2 linked regions of the Homo sapiens genome follow. The protein of the gene in region 1 interacts with the protein of each later gene in a biochemical or structural test. Each region holds a gene or a part of one and is shown in the gene's direction. Other genes may lie near its edges.

Region 1 (7,024 bases):
GTAACCAGGTAACCTGGGAGTTCTGTCAGGCCAATGGCACTCATGTTCCCTTCTCTACCTCCCTGACTGCTGCTGGGCTTGAGCCACACTGGGAAGTGGTGGGGTCATTTCTCACACGTGGGACCGTGGTTACTCTGCACTTTTCTCATTCTTTTGCCATTATGGTGGCAGCAGCTTTGGCATCAACATGCATCCTCACTGTGAACATGAAGTCACAGCCCGTGGCAGAATGCATGTTCTACTACTTCCTCTCCTGGAGCCCCCCGGTATTTCTAACTATTGGTTGGATACTGATTGGAATAAAAGATAACAAAGAACCCCACATCTGTGGTTGGCTCATGGCTTTAGCCATAAACAGGGGTGAATATTATCATATCATATAAACTCCTTGTCTTACTAGTCATCAGATCCTGGTCTGACCAATGGTCATTGTAGCCAGGGGCTACCAGTATATCTCTTTTGTATGATTTTTAGTATCTGTACCATTGGCTGGATGACACTCGCCAGTCAACTTTCAGCTTTTTTTCCTCCTTAAGGTCTTTTGATGGATGGTTAGAGGAGTAGACAGGTCTCGAGGCCTAGGTTTATCTCCATACAGCTTTTATTGTACCCCATCCTTTTGCCAAGCGTGGGAAAGATTCCTAAGTTGTCACACATCACAGATCTTTCTTTCACTATCAAACCTGTTCAATTATATTAGTTTCCTAGCACTGTTGTAACCAATTATCACAAACTAGATGACTTAAAACAACAGGAATTTGTATCACAGCTCAGGAGCCCAGAAGTCCAAAACCAAGATGGCGGCAAAGTTGATTTTTTTTTTTCAGAAGGCTCTATGTGAAAATCGGTTCTATTCCTCTCTCCTAGCTTCTGGTGGTTTCTAGCAAACCTCGGCATTCTTTGGCTTATATCTGTGCTATTCCCATCTCTGCCTCTACTGTCACATGGCTTTCTTTCCCGTGTGTCTGTATGTCTTCTCCTCTTATAAAAACACAGGTCAAGGCCGGGTGCAGTGGCTCACACCTGTAATCCCAGCACTTTGGGAGGCCGAGACAGGTGGATCACCTGAGGTCAGGAGTTCAAGACCAGCATGGCCAACATGGTGAAACCCCGTCTCTACTAAAAATCTAAAAATTAGTTGGGCGTGGTGGCATACACCTGTAATCCCAGCTACTCAGGAGACTGAGGCAGGAGAATCGCTTGAACCTGGGAGGCGGGGGTTGCAGTGAGCTGAGATTGTACCATTGCATTCCAGCCTGGGCGACAGAGCGAAACTCCATCTCAAAAAAAAACAAAAACTACAGGTCATTGAATTTAGGGCCTGTCTTTATCCAGTATGACCTCATCTTAACTTGATTACACCTGCAAAGATGTGATTTTCAAATAAGTTCACATTCACATAAGTGAACAATTTTTGTGGAGGGTATAAATCTATCTACTAGAACAAGTATCAAAATGTTACTGCCTACTGAGAGCCACCCTTTTTCCCTTTGCCTCACAGTTTCTTGTCTAAACTGACCTCAGGTTCTGAGAATTGGCATTGTATCATCATGCCACTACTCTGTGGTACACCCTCTGGCTGACCACAAGCAATAATTGCAGGTTTGTTTTGCCATTTGCACTCATGCAGCTTAACTCCACAGGGGGAATACAGGACAGGAGATATAGCATGCAGACAGGGCCGCTTCAGGTGAGCTCTCCGTGAGGATTCTTTTGTTTTGTTTTGTTTTTTGAGACGGAGTCTCGCTCTGTCGCCCGGGCTGGAGTGCAGTGGTGCGATCTCGGCTCACTGGAAGCTCTGCCTCCCGGGTTCACGCCATTCTCCTGCCTTAGCCTCCCGAGTAGCTGGGACTACAGGCGCCCGCCGCCACCCCTGGCTAATTTTTGTATTTTTAGTAGAGATGGGGTTTCACCTTGTTAGCCAGGATGGTCTTGATCTCCTTACCTCGTGATCCGCCTGCCTCGGCCTCCCAAAGTGCTGAGATTACAGGGGTGAGCCACCGCGCCCGGCCTCAGTGAGGATTCTTACGGTGGTACAAGACCATGTGACCATGTGGATGCGTGTGAAACTAACGTAGCTTAGGTAAATCTTACATCAACGGATTGATTCCCTTGTAAAGACCATGAACATAGCTTCCAGGGCCCTACAGAGAATATTTTGTTACAAGAGTCTCAATCCTCTTACGGAAAATGAGGTCTGTGCTTACCAAAAAGAATAAAAATAAAATAATATACCAGGGGATGGTGATGGCGATGTGTTTTTTATAGGAAGAAAGGACTTAAGCCTAATGATAACCTTTTTTTCCCCCACATGTCTAGTCTGACTTCCAATCTTATTTCCTTTACCTTACCCTACTTCCCACCCTCATCTGCTTCTCTCTGTTAACTTGTCCTGCATCCTCCCATCCCTGCCCCCACCTCCTATTCATTGGAAAGAGACTGTCACTTTTACTTCATTTAGGAAGTGTCACATATCCAGGTTCCTCTAGGCTCATGTGAGGCCAAGGCCTAGGGCTTTTTGCATATCAGCCACACATTTAAAAACTTTCGAACATGTTATGATGCTATGTCCTCCATGAACGGGGCATTCACTTCCATGATTCCTTCTGCCTAAAATATTTGTTTTCTTTCTCATTCTGTATTCCTTTCTCATTATTCAGCTTTCATTAAACTCTTACTTATCCAAGCAAGATATCTTGGATAGTTCTCTATTTAGCACATTATTTGGTCTTCTAAAAACCTATACCTCTCTATGATGGTGTTTTTTACACCTACCATTTTACATTTTATGAATGATTATATAATTAGCTTCTATCTTCTTAGGTGACTGTTTACTTTATTCTGGCTAATACCATCTGTTCATTACTCAACTTTGGATTTTAATCCATTTCCTGAATTTTAATCACGGAAGATAATATGTCTTCAGTGAGAATTTCCAAAATAAACACATGAATAATTGGCATTCAATTAGTGGATGTGGATTTAACACAGACAGAACTTCATCGCTCCTAAATGTGGTCTCCCTTTATGTATTGGGACATCTCTCTCATGGCCAACAGCCATCTCCTTGCTATTTCTATTCCTCGATGATCTGACATTGGTATGAATCTGTGATCTATGTGTAATTCAGCTGGTTACACCCCTCCCCCAACGAATACACACCTTTGGGTTCCTATCAACCTCTGTAACATCCTTCAGGCCAAGAAGAAATCCTACCATCTACAAACACAAGACCCCCCCAGAAATTCCCAACTTATGTGGTTTCCTCCATTTCTACACTCTCATAACCCTGGATCCCAATCTACTTCTTTCAGGCTTTACCTCGGCTTTTCTTTGTTTAAATAAGTGGAGTAGCATGGAGACCTCTGAAAGAGAACTCTGAGGGTATTATGTTCACTCCAATTCTACCATCGAATTGGGTGATCTTTGTAAATCATTTAATTTTATTTATTCATCTGAAGAAAGGGAGTACTCTTATTTCTCAAGAATTTTGGAAGGAGGAACAAACAGGCCAAAGTGATTTTTAAATTGTAACTGGTAATGAAATCTCCATATTGTGGTCATTGCTGTTTCTGTCGGTATCTCTGGAAAGTCTGTGAGGGCATGGGAGGATTTTGTGTGGGTAGATGTGTTAGGAGGCGAGCACTTCTTCACTGGAAACCACATCTGGGGTTCTAAAGTTCAGCTATTGAAGAATTTCCAAATAATGGAAGGAAGATAATGAAACAATGATAAAGTTTTAGTCATCTGTGGAGAGACAGGGAAGTTTTTTTTATATGTTTATCAAACATTGTGCTTCTCTGTGTTCTAAACACTGAGGCTATAGCAGTAAAAAGACAAAAGTGCCTAATCTACATGTAGATTATGTTTTAGAAAGAAGAGGTGGACATTTAAAAATAGATAATGATAATAAAAGAAAGATGGCAAATGTACACTGAATGATGAGTTTGTGGTTGTGCTGTACTTAAGTTTGTCTTAGCAGCCCTTCTGATGAAGGGACATGTAAGGAGAAAGTTGAAAAAAGTATAAACGAAAGTCATGCAAATAGCAACAGGATGGTAATTCTAGGCTGAGTAATGAACAAGTGCAAAAGCCTTGAGGCATTAACAGCTCGCCCAGACCACTTTCAGCCATTTTTGGTTTCTCTTCCTCATCTTCTTTGTTCTTTGATATTGCAGTCTCGGCCAGTCTTTATTGTCTGTGCAATTAGAATGCTTTTTATTTGTACCATTCTTATACCATCCCCTTTCAATCTTCTCAGCCATCCAGGGGTCTTTAACCAGAAGAGAGAGGAGAGCCTCAGGAGTTAGGACCAGAAGAAGCCAGGGAAGCAGTGCAATGGCTTCAAAAATCTTGCTTAACGTACAAGAGGAGGTGACCTGTCCCATCTGCCTGGAGCTGTTGACAGAACCCTTGAGTCTAGACTGTGGCCACAGCCTCTGCCGAGCCTGCATCACTGTGAGCAACAAGGAGGCAGTGACCAGCATGGGAGGAAAAAGCAGCTGTCCTGTGTGTGGTATCAGTTACTCATTTGAACATCTACAGGCTAATCAGCATCTGGCCAACATAGTGGAGAGACTCAAGGAGGTCAAGTTGAGCCCAGACAATGGGAAGAAGAGAGATCTCTGTGATCATCATGGAGAGAAACTCCTACTCTTCTGTAAGGAGGATAGGAAAGTCATTTGCTGGCTTTGTGAGCGGTCTCAGGAGCACCGTGGTCACCACACAGTCCTCACGGAGGAAGTATTCAAGGAATGTCAGGTAGGGCCCTAGATGGAGGGAGATGGGGCAGAAGATGGTAGTTGGTGGAAAATCTCACCTTTTCATCCTTTTTTTTTTTTTTTTTTTTTTGAGACAGAGTCTCACTCTGTCGCCCAGGCTGGAGTGCAGTGGCGTGCTCTCGGCTCACTGCAACCTCTGCCCTCTGAGTTCAAGTAATTTTCCTGCCTCAGCCTCCCAAGTAGCTCGGATTACAGGCGCCTGCCACCGCGCCTGGCTAATTTTTTTTTTTTTTTTTTGGATTTTTAGTAGAGACGGGATTTCACCATCTTGGCCAGGCTGGTCTTGAACTCCTAATCTTGTGATCCACCCACCTCGGCCTCCCAAAGTGCTGGGATTACAGGTGTGAGCCACCATGCCCGGCCTTTTCTTTCTTTTTTTTTTTTTTTTTTTGTGAGCAATAAAGCTTTTTAATCACCTGGGTGCAGGCGGACTGAGTCTGAAAAAGGAGTCAGCCCTTTTCATCCTTCTTTACCCCCTGTGGAACCATAATTCTGAGTCCCGTGATCTTCTCCATGTACATCTTTCACACTGTGCTCAGCTTCCAATGCCTGGGGTACACTCTTGTGTATTCCTTTCATTTACATAACAGATGATCCTAGAGTACAGTCTCTTAGCCAAGAATGAGAAATTTTTGTCTTGTTTTTTCCTTTTTCATTGTATAAGTGATAAATTCCTTCCCAAAGTTAGCTCTCTTGCTTCTCTAAGCAGGATAATTGCTAAGGAACATTGTGGATTGAATGAGGAAAGAGCATTGATAAGAGGAAAGGACTTTCTGCAGGGTAAATACTTACTCTAAGGAAAGACAGAATCAGGCTACTCCTTTTGAGGGGTATTGATTTTCATCACAATGAATGAACAATACATTCATCTCCTCAAAATTTTCCCCATGTCATAGATTCTAATCACCAGCTTCACAGTTTCTGTAAATTGCTTTTTTCTGGGATCAACTTGATTTTTTCCCTGTTTGTCCTCTATCCAGATACTAAGAAAGCTTATAGCTTGACTGTAGTGTGATTCCCTTCTCATAGGAGAAACTCCAGGCAGTCCTCAAGAGGCTGAAGAAGGAAGAGGAGGAAGCTGAGAAGCTGGAAGCTGACATCAGAGAAGAGAAAACTTCCTGGAAGGCAAGAGGAGATTCTGAAGGTTTTCTGAGACAGGAATCTTGACAGGACCTTAATCCAAGGAGGCCTCGTCCTTTTTATTCCTTGACATTGCATGAGTCCTGAAGCCATTTGATTAGTTCTCTTCTCTGTCCTGTCCCTGTTGGGGGTGGAGGCTAGAAAGTGGACATGTTACAATTACACATACATACCTGGAACTGAGCACAAAGATAGACTCTATGATGAGGAAGGCTAGCAAATACTGTGTTCCATTGCTCTTTTCCAACGGGGCTCTACTACTTCTGGTGGAAGACACTACATAAAGGACTATGGTTTTCCTCAAGATTCAAATTAGGAGTGTGGTAAGGCAGGCAGTCATGAATATCCAGGAAAGCTATCTAGAAGCTAAGCCTTATGTTTTATATTTTGTCTCAGGGTTGGCCTAGATAAGACAGTTTGAGGTCATTGTTTTGGTAGGTACTGAAAGGAAAATAGTAGGAAAAAATAGCTTCCCTCCAAGTACCTCTATTGCTTCTACTCCCTTGCTGATTTGAACTCCCTGAAAAAAAAAATCGATATATAGATAATACAAATATATATATACAGATAATATAAATACACACACACACACACACACACACACACACACACACACATATATATATATATATATTTCCCTACTGGCTCCTAATCCCTTGCACAATAGGCCTTAGCCTGACAAACTTACTACAACTCTCTCTTGTCCATCCTTGCAGTATCAGGTACAAACTGAGAGACAAAGGATACAAACAGAATTTGATCAGCTTAGAAGCATCCTAAATAATGAGGAGCAGAGAGAGCTGCAAAGATTGGAAGAAGAAGAAAAGAAGACGCTGGATAAGTTTGCAGAGGCTGAGGATGAGCTAGTTCAGCAGAAGCAGTTGGTGAGAGAGCTCATCTCAGATGTGGAGTGTCGGAGTCAGTGGTCAACAATGGAGCTGCTGCAGGTAAGAAGGTTCGCTCAATCTGAGATTCTGGGAACACAGTTCCCTCCTGTGTCCTTGCGTTCTCATCCTGGTGGTGACACTAAGGGGTTTCTTTGGCCTTGCAGTGCCGCCTTGTCGTCCATTCTAGATGTCATGGACATGAATGACATTTTTATT
Region 2 (7,777 bases), on another chromosome or scaffold:
AGTATTTGGCAAATGATCAGGTGAGTGAATAGGATTGCTTTATTACCAGAGAGAGGGACAGCTGAGCATCACATGGTGATAACATGACTAGCTCCTGTTTATTGAGCACATACTATGTGCCCAGTGCTCTACTAGGACCTACAGGTACACAATCCCATTTAACCTGTGCAACAATCCCACAAGGTAAGTACTTCTATGACCCCCTTTACAAAGACATAAACTGAGCCTCAGACAGAGCAGTAACTTGCTCAAGGCACAGAGTTAAAAAGCTGGGTGCCAAGACCAGAACCCCAGGTCTCTTCAACTCCAATGGATACAGATAAACAATGGAGGCCCCATCAACAGCTCTGCCTGGAAGAGCAGAGAACAGGGCCAGGGCAGACTCCTCTAGGGACTGCAATGAAAACCTGCTTTCCTGGACACACCAGTTTTACTCAGTCTTCATTCCACCCCAGGAGGATGACTTTGTGACCTTGGGCAATCTCCATTCCCCTCTTCAGCCACCCCTGGTTCTCTGACCCTTGTCCCTGACCAAAGACATGTTATTATTCACATTCAGTACCTTTCCACCTCCTCCCCCTGCATGAATTCACAGAGGAAATCTGAAAATAAAATCCAGGCTGCCTGGTAGAAGGGAGACTTGGGTTTTGTCAACACAATGTGCAGTAAAAATATCTCTCTTTTAAAAGAGAGAGAGAAAAATTTAAAGACTCAAGATCAGTAACATGTAATTATCATCTGGTTTGGGCGGAGAGCTCTAATAGTTTCCAGAAAAACACAAGCCATGAACAGGGAGTGCGCCTTCCAAGGCAAAAGGAGATGAGGACTCCAGCAGGCAGTGGTGCCATCTTGGAAGTCTTGTGGCCTTTGAGGCCCTTTCCAGGCAGAGTAAGGAGGCACAGCAACTGCTGAATAAATGAACCCCGTGAATGGACACACCTGAAGGCACAGAGGAGGTATCTTTGCTCCTTTCTTGGGGACACCAGGGAACCTTGAAATGGCAGAGATAGCTAGGTCTCTGCCAATATCTACTGTCCCCCATTTTAAAGTCATAGAACCCCAATTTTAGCTGAGCACATGGTGACCCACAATACAGACCATCTTTCCAGGCCTCCCCTTACAGATAAGAGCCACAAGACTGACCAATGGGGTATTAGTGGAATGTGTGTGCAACTTGTAAGATGCGTGCTTAAAGGGAGATATCTGCCCTTGTTCCCTTTCCTACTCCCTGCTGGAAGGAATGCAGATGTAATGGCTGGAGCTTAGCAGCCATTCTAAAATGTAAGGCAAACTTGAGAATGAAGGCCACAAATGGCAGACCGACAATGTAGAAGGACCCCAGGTCACCACACTAAACCTGGAATGCCTACAACTCTTTCAAGAAAAAGACACAACTCTATTGTTTTAGCCACTGGTATTTAGGCTTAAAGATAATCCTTAGGGTCAAACTCAACTTAAACAGCTCTTAAATAGAGAAGAGAAATAAAGGCAATCTAAGTATTTAAAAGTAAGACTCCCACTCAGTGGGTGACAAGCACATAGCAGATTCCTGGCTTCATCTCCAGATGTGCCATGGAATGCAAAGAAAGGTGGAACCTACCCACGTGAAATGTTTTCTTCTTTTTGTCTATTGCTCTCTTTTGTTTGTTTGCTGTCTAAAGAGATACTGTGGAGATGCATCATGTTTTCTAACTTATGCAAATGTTGTGAGCACATACTAAGTGTCAAAAATGCTTTTTCTTAGTATCTCTGCTTTATAGTTAAAGAAACCGCGGCTCAGAGAGGTAGCGCCACACAGCTGGGAAGGAGAACCTGCCCTGGAGAAGAGACAAGACAGAATCCTTGTCCAGGGAACTTCCCGAGGCGCTTGGTCTCCACTGGCATGGTGGTCCCTGCTACAGACTCCTAAAAATGGCTCAGGCCCAGAGGGGCTCCATGTGCCTTCAGGATGTGGCCACGGGGACAGAAAGGGGTCATCCAAGCACAGTCTGGATGGAGACCAGCCGTGAGGGGCACCAGCCTCCTCCCTGCAGCAGAAGCCATCTTCCTAGAAGTAAGGCTGGCACCCAAGACCAAGCTAACATCCCTCAACCTGACCTGCAAGCCCACCAGGGACCTGGGGTCAAGGCCTGAGCTGCAGAGGCCAGGGAAGGAAGGGGAGAAGCTAGCATGGGCCCTGGAGATGGGGGGAGAGAGAGTTTCCCCACGGGGGAGTGGTGGGCTGTGTCAAGACCAACACTGGGAGGCCAGGCCGGAAGAGCACAAAGAACTGCCTGGAGGCTTCACAGAGAAACAGCTGGAATCTGACTCCTTCCAGGAAAGATGAGTGAAGAAACCACGATGAGTGACTGAAGAGACAGGAAGAATAAAGGATGATGCAGGACAAGGCAGTGGGAGGGGTGGGCACGTCTTGGAGCTGTGATTCATCAAGTCTGGAGTCCAACCATGGGTTGGGGTAGGAGCTCCTCCCTGCAGATCAGAGGGAACTTGAAGCCAAGGTGCGCCCAAGCCCAGGTTGGTGAGCGGCATCACCTGGTGGCCAGTTCGGGCGTGGCACCCCAGACACCCAAGGGACTCAGCCTTGCAGGGCTCAGCCGGAGCCCCTTCCGGAGGGCACCTTCATCATCTCCCTCAGCACCCCACCTACCCCCCCATTTAAAGAGCACTATTGTTATTTCATAGGGTGATACCTGCAGTTTTCGCTTTTACATAAAAGGAGAATAAAAGCATCCTGCAGTTTGCTGTTATTGACTTGCCCCAGACTTACTGGTTCTCCACCTGGAAGCAGGAAAAGTCACCCAGGAGCATAAAAAATCTCACCCTCGGGCCCCAGCCGCAGAGGTTGGAGTTGACTAGTCTGGGCCGGCCTGGGCATTGAGACTTTTTTTTTGCTTCAAACACTTAACATGCAGGCAGGGCGGAAGACCTGGGCTCCAGGTGCTCGCTCTGCAAAGACAGATAGCTTCAGGATAAACCTCCGGACCCCCTTTCCATTTGTATTTGCCGCTAAGCTGCTCCTTATGCATAAATGGGGTCTGCAAGGAGCACAGACGTCTCTAGCCCTCCCAGCCCTCTGCAGATGAGACACAGACCCCAAGTCCAGGGACTTCCAGGGCTGAGCTCTCAACCCCCTTGGCTGCCAAAAGCTGGGGGGCCTTGTACACAGCATTCACCTCTGTGGGCCTCAGTTCCTCCTTCTGTGATCTGGAAGAGAACAGTGGCTCTGAGTTTTTCTGAGGTCACTGGCCCTTTTGAGAATTATGTAAGCAACGGGTCCTCTCCCAGAAGCATTCCTGTGAGGTGACCACGGTGCCCGTGACTACGGATGGCTCTGGGGCTCTAGCCCGACAGCTGGGCTGTATCAGCCCCTTAGGTCCTCACCTCGACCCCATGCGCTAGGTCCTTTGATTAAGTCCTTTTACACATGGGGAAACTGAGGCACAGAGGGGTTAAATAATTTGTCCGAGGTCACACAGCCGGTAAATGGCGGAGCCAGGTTTGGACCCAAGCATGCTGACCCAGGCTTGCATTCCGAACCACTCGGCTGCTGACCCCAGGCATCTGACTCTGGAATTAATAAGCAAGTTTTATGATGAGGCGGGGAACTCCACGCCATCTGTGCACTAAGGGTGATTCACCAGTGACTTCTGGGTGTTATAGATCAGGAAACACAATTGGGGAATGGACAGGACAAGCTCTGTCATGGACTCTGTGTGGCCTTGGACAAGTGATCTTGCCTTTCTAGCCTCAGTTTCCCCCCTGAGAAGAAGACAGAACTGGCCCCTACCCTGTAGATGGGTTGGAGGAGCACTTGAGATTGGAAAACGCATAATAGGTGTTCATTAAAGAGGCTCACATGGATACACACAAGAACAATCTCAGGGCCTTCACGCACCTAAATGTTCTGCCCCTAGTGTGGGCAAGGGAAACAAACTGGAAGAAGACAAGAAAAGCCACTGAGAGCTGGGGACGGTGCCTCTGTAGCACCTGTGAGTCCCCGAGGAGGAAGTACTACAGGAACCAGCGGGGCCGGGCGTGGGGGCTTGCGGCTGGAATCCCAGCACTGTGGGAGGCCAAGGCAGGCAGATCGCTTGAGCCCAGGAGTTTGAGACCAGCCTGGGCAACACGATGAAACCCCATCTCTACAGAAAATACAAAAATTAGCCGGGCATGGTGGTCTAGGCCTGTGGTCCCAGCTACTAGGGAGGCTGAGAGGTGGGAGGATCGCTGGAGTCCGGAAGGTCGAGGCTGCCGTGAGCCGTGATCACGCCACTGCACTCCAGCCTGGATGACAGAAACCCTGTCTCAAAAACAAACAAAAACACAGAAACCAGATAACCAGCCCCAGCCCCTCACATCATCAGAGTGATGCCACGCCCTGGCATCCCCCTCCACGTGGTGCATGCTCTTTTTTTTATTTTTATTTTCTTCAGTTCTCTGATGCTGATTCAGAAAATAAAAATGTAGAGGTCCAGGTGGGCTGTGCCTGGAACGGGGAAGGTGAGGGAAGTCCTCTGTCTCAAAGGCCTCTTCGGAGGACGCTCTGGTCTTGCCAAGTTTACAGCTCCTCCCTGTCAACATCAAGTCAGGTCCCCAACTCTGTCTTGCTCATCCACCTGGCTTCCACTTTTTTTTTCTTTCAAAAGACGAACAGAGAAGTTTCATTTTCTTTTTCTCCTGAAACCGAATCTGGCCGGCCTGGCTAGGCATCTATTTCCGGGCTGTAAGCAGCTGACACCTGCCCAGTGGAAGCTGGCATCCCTCCCCTTGTGGGTTCAGAGCTGCAAGAAGCACCAGGCTCGGCCACTTCAGAAGCCCCAGCCTCGACCTAGCCCACCCTCTCAGGGCCACAGTGCAGAAGCCTGCACACCTGCCAAGTCTCTCCGACTCCTTGCAGCTGCTGTCAGCATGGCCCAGGCTCCTGCTGACCCGGGCAGAGAAGGTACAGTACTTCTTCCTTCCAAGGACCAGCGGTAGCTCCCGGGGTGAGATTTCTACTTCTCTTTCCTCCTGTTTCGCTTGGTCCAGATCATGATGACAATAGCAGTATCCTAAAGAATAGTAGACCAGCTGGGCGTGGTGGCTCACGCCTGTAATCCCAGCACTTTGGGAGGCGAGGTAGGTGGACTGTTTAAGCTCAGGAGTTTGACACTAGCCTGGCCAACATGGCGAAACCCCATCTCTACTAAAATTACAAAAATTAACCGGGCATGGTGGCGCATGCCTGTGATCCCAGCTACTCGGGATGCTGAGGCTGGAGAATCGCTTGAACCCGGGAGGTGGAAGTTGTAGTGAGCTGAGATGTCGCCATTGCACTCCAGACTGGGTGACAGAGTGAGATTCCATCTCAGAAAAAAAAAAAAAAAATAGAAAGGGACAGCATAGCCATCCCCCTTTGACAGCTGACTGTGCCCCAGGCACCTCGAAACATGCTTTCCAAGCATTTCCTGATGGCCTGCAGGGACAAGTGCCATGTCATTCCCATTTTATAGATAACTGAGGCCCTGAGAGGTGAAATGACACTCTCAGGGTAACACAGCTGGCGAACGCTGGTGTTAGCGTCTGAACACCCATGTCACAGTCATATCGAGAACAAAGCGGTTTGCTTTGATGAGATACATGTGTGCCTTTGTTCCCCCTTGTTGCATCCTTTCCTCAACTAACATTTCATTCATTTTATTCCTGGAAGAGTTGCAATGAAAGCCAATAGTGTATCGAGTAATTGCTGTTCTCTAGGGTCTCCACTAAGCGCTGTGGACTGTAGGTGAAGTGTGGTTTTGCGGTTTGGGGGATGTGTTTGTTTTGTTTTTAATCCTCACCACAATCTTTGAAGTAGTTATTACTGTCTCCATTTCACAGAAGAGGAACCTGAAGCCGGAGGGGAGGTCACACAGCTAGTAGTTGGCAGGGCTAGGAGCTCAAACCCAGGAAATCAGCCATCAGAATTTTAAAAAACCAACACAGAGTGTGCCCCGGGAGGGCTAATGTCAGGGTGTGGCCCAGGAGCCGGGCTGACCGCGGAGGTCCTGTGGAGCTTCCTCTTCGGGGACTCACGGGTGCTGACGCAGGTTCCGGACTCAGCCCTCGCTGGCTTTTCTTGTCTTCCTCCCCAGTTGATTTTCCTTTTGTGACCAAATTGTTGCCTACACCTGCTCCATTTTACAATTTCCCATTTTCAGACACAGTAGCCTGGGACTCAGCAGTCGAGGCCAGCCCAGGGCCAGTGCTTGTCCTGCATCCACACCTCTGACCCCCATCTCCTCTGGGGTGTGTGGAGCCGAGGCAGTGGCTCCCTAAGGTCAGCCTTCCAGAATCAAAACTGCGGCCAGGCGCAGTGGCTCACGCCTGCAATCCCAGCACTTTGGGAGGCTGAGTTGCGGGGATCACCCAAGGTCAGGAGTTTGACACCAGCCTGGCCAAAAAGGGAAACCCTGTCTCTACTAAAAATACAAAAATCAGCCGGGTGTAGTGGTGCGTGCCTGTAATCTCAGCTACTTGAGAGACTGAGGCAAGAGAATTGCTTGAACCCAGGAGGTGGAGGTTGCAGTGAGCCGAGATCACACCACTGCAGCCGCAGACCAGGCAACAAGAACGAAATTCCATCTCAAAACCAAAAAACAAAAAACTCTGCGAGACAAGGTGAAGCCAGGTGTGAAGTCAGGTGCATGGAGGTGCTGCTGGCTGCCGGTGGGGGAGTTTGGTGGGCGCAGGAGTGGGAATTCCCAGGTCTTCTAATTGGTCTTCACCTGCACACGGCAAGCCGGTCAGCGTTGTAACCATCAGGGTGAGGCACAAACTGATTCTTCCCTCCCCTACAAGTGCTGTGACCAAGGAACCCTGGGCAAACCTGGAGAATCCTCTGAACAGGAAAGAAAGCCCAGATGACAAAGGACTGAGTCACTGTCCTGGAAGGGGAACTCAGGTCTTTCCAAGAAGGGCTCTCCCATGCACTGCCCTCAGGTTCCTTGAAGCAGAAGCTTCCTGGTGACAGGTGGGGCCCCCGCCCACAGTGGCTCTCCCAGGCTGCTGGCTGCCAGGTGCTGCCCGTAACCTGCGTCTGCCCCAGCCTCATCTCTGGGCAGAGCAGCTGGCTTTGATCTTTTAATCATTGTGTGAGCTAATGGTTTTGATTTTTAAGAGCTGCCTCAGGAGGAGCAGGGGCCATTTGGAGAATTCCTCCTTGAACCTCTTGGGGTCCTGCTTAGTCCTCATTAAACTCAGGCCAGGAAACAGCAGCACATTGCCAACTGGCCAAGGAGAAGCTACCCGGGCCCTGCCCAGGGTCTATTGGGTAAACGTCTGTCCCTAGAGACAGACACTCACTCATTCAGTCCTTTTTTTTTTTTTTTCCAGAGATGGGGTCTTGTCCAGGCTGGAGTGCAGTGGTGCATTCATAGCTCACTGCAACTGCTACCTCCTAGATTCAAGCGATCCTCCCACTTTTAGCCTCTTAAGCAGCTGGGACTACAGGCATATGCCATCGTACCTACCTGATTTTTCTCTTTTTTTGTAGAGATGGGGGTCTCACTATGTTGCCCAGGCTGGTCTAGAACTCCTGGCCTCTAGGGGTCCTCCCATCTCAGCCTTCTGATGTGCTAGGATTACAAGTGTGAGCCACCACTCCTGGCCCCATTCATTCATTCATTCATTCACTCAGTCACTCATACATTCAACTGCCATTTCCTGAGCACCTACTGTGTGCCCAGCACTGTGCTAGATGCTGAAGGTACAACAGTGAGCCATGCAAGCACAGCAGGGGACACTAGGGGAAGTTCTG

Evidence for each region. The genes of interacting proteins can lie anywhere in the genome.
Region 2: the proteins of TRIM34 (region 1) and ZBP1 form a complex in vitro, tested with the Homo sapiens proteins (one study listed by BioGRID).

The regions. Positions count from the first base shown.
Region 1 is NC_000011.10:5,627,994-5,635,017, forward strand, and holds part of TRIM34 (E3 ubiquitin-protein ligase TRIM34), read left to right. Parts: intron 1-4,261; coding exon of another isoform or gene 4,262-4,338; coding exon 4,339-4,761; intron 4,762-5,810; coding exon 5,811-5,906; intron 5,907-6,637; coding exon 6,638-6,868; intron 6,869-7,024. Other genes in the region: TRIM6-TRIM34 (tripartite motif-containing 6 and tripartite motif-containing 34), read left to right, coding at 4,262-4,761, 5,811-5,906, 6,638-6,868.
Region 2 is NC_000020.11:57,617,427-57,625,203, reverse strand, and holds the start of ZBP1 (Z-DNA-binding protein 1), read left to right. Parts: upstream 1-4,777; 5' UTR 4,778-4,908; coding exon 4,909-4,942; intron 4,943-7,777.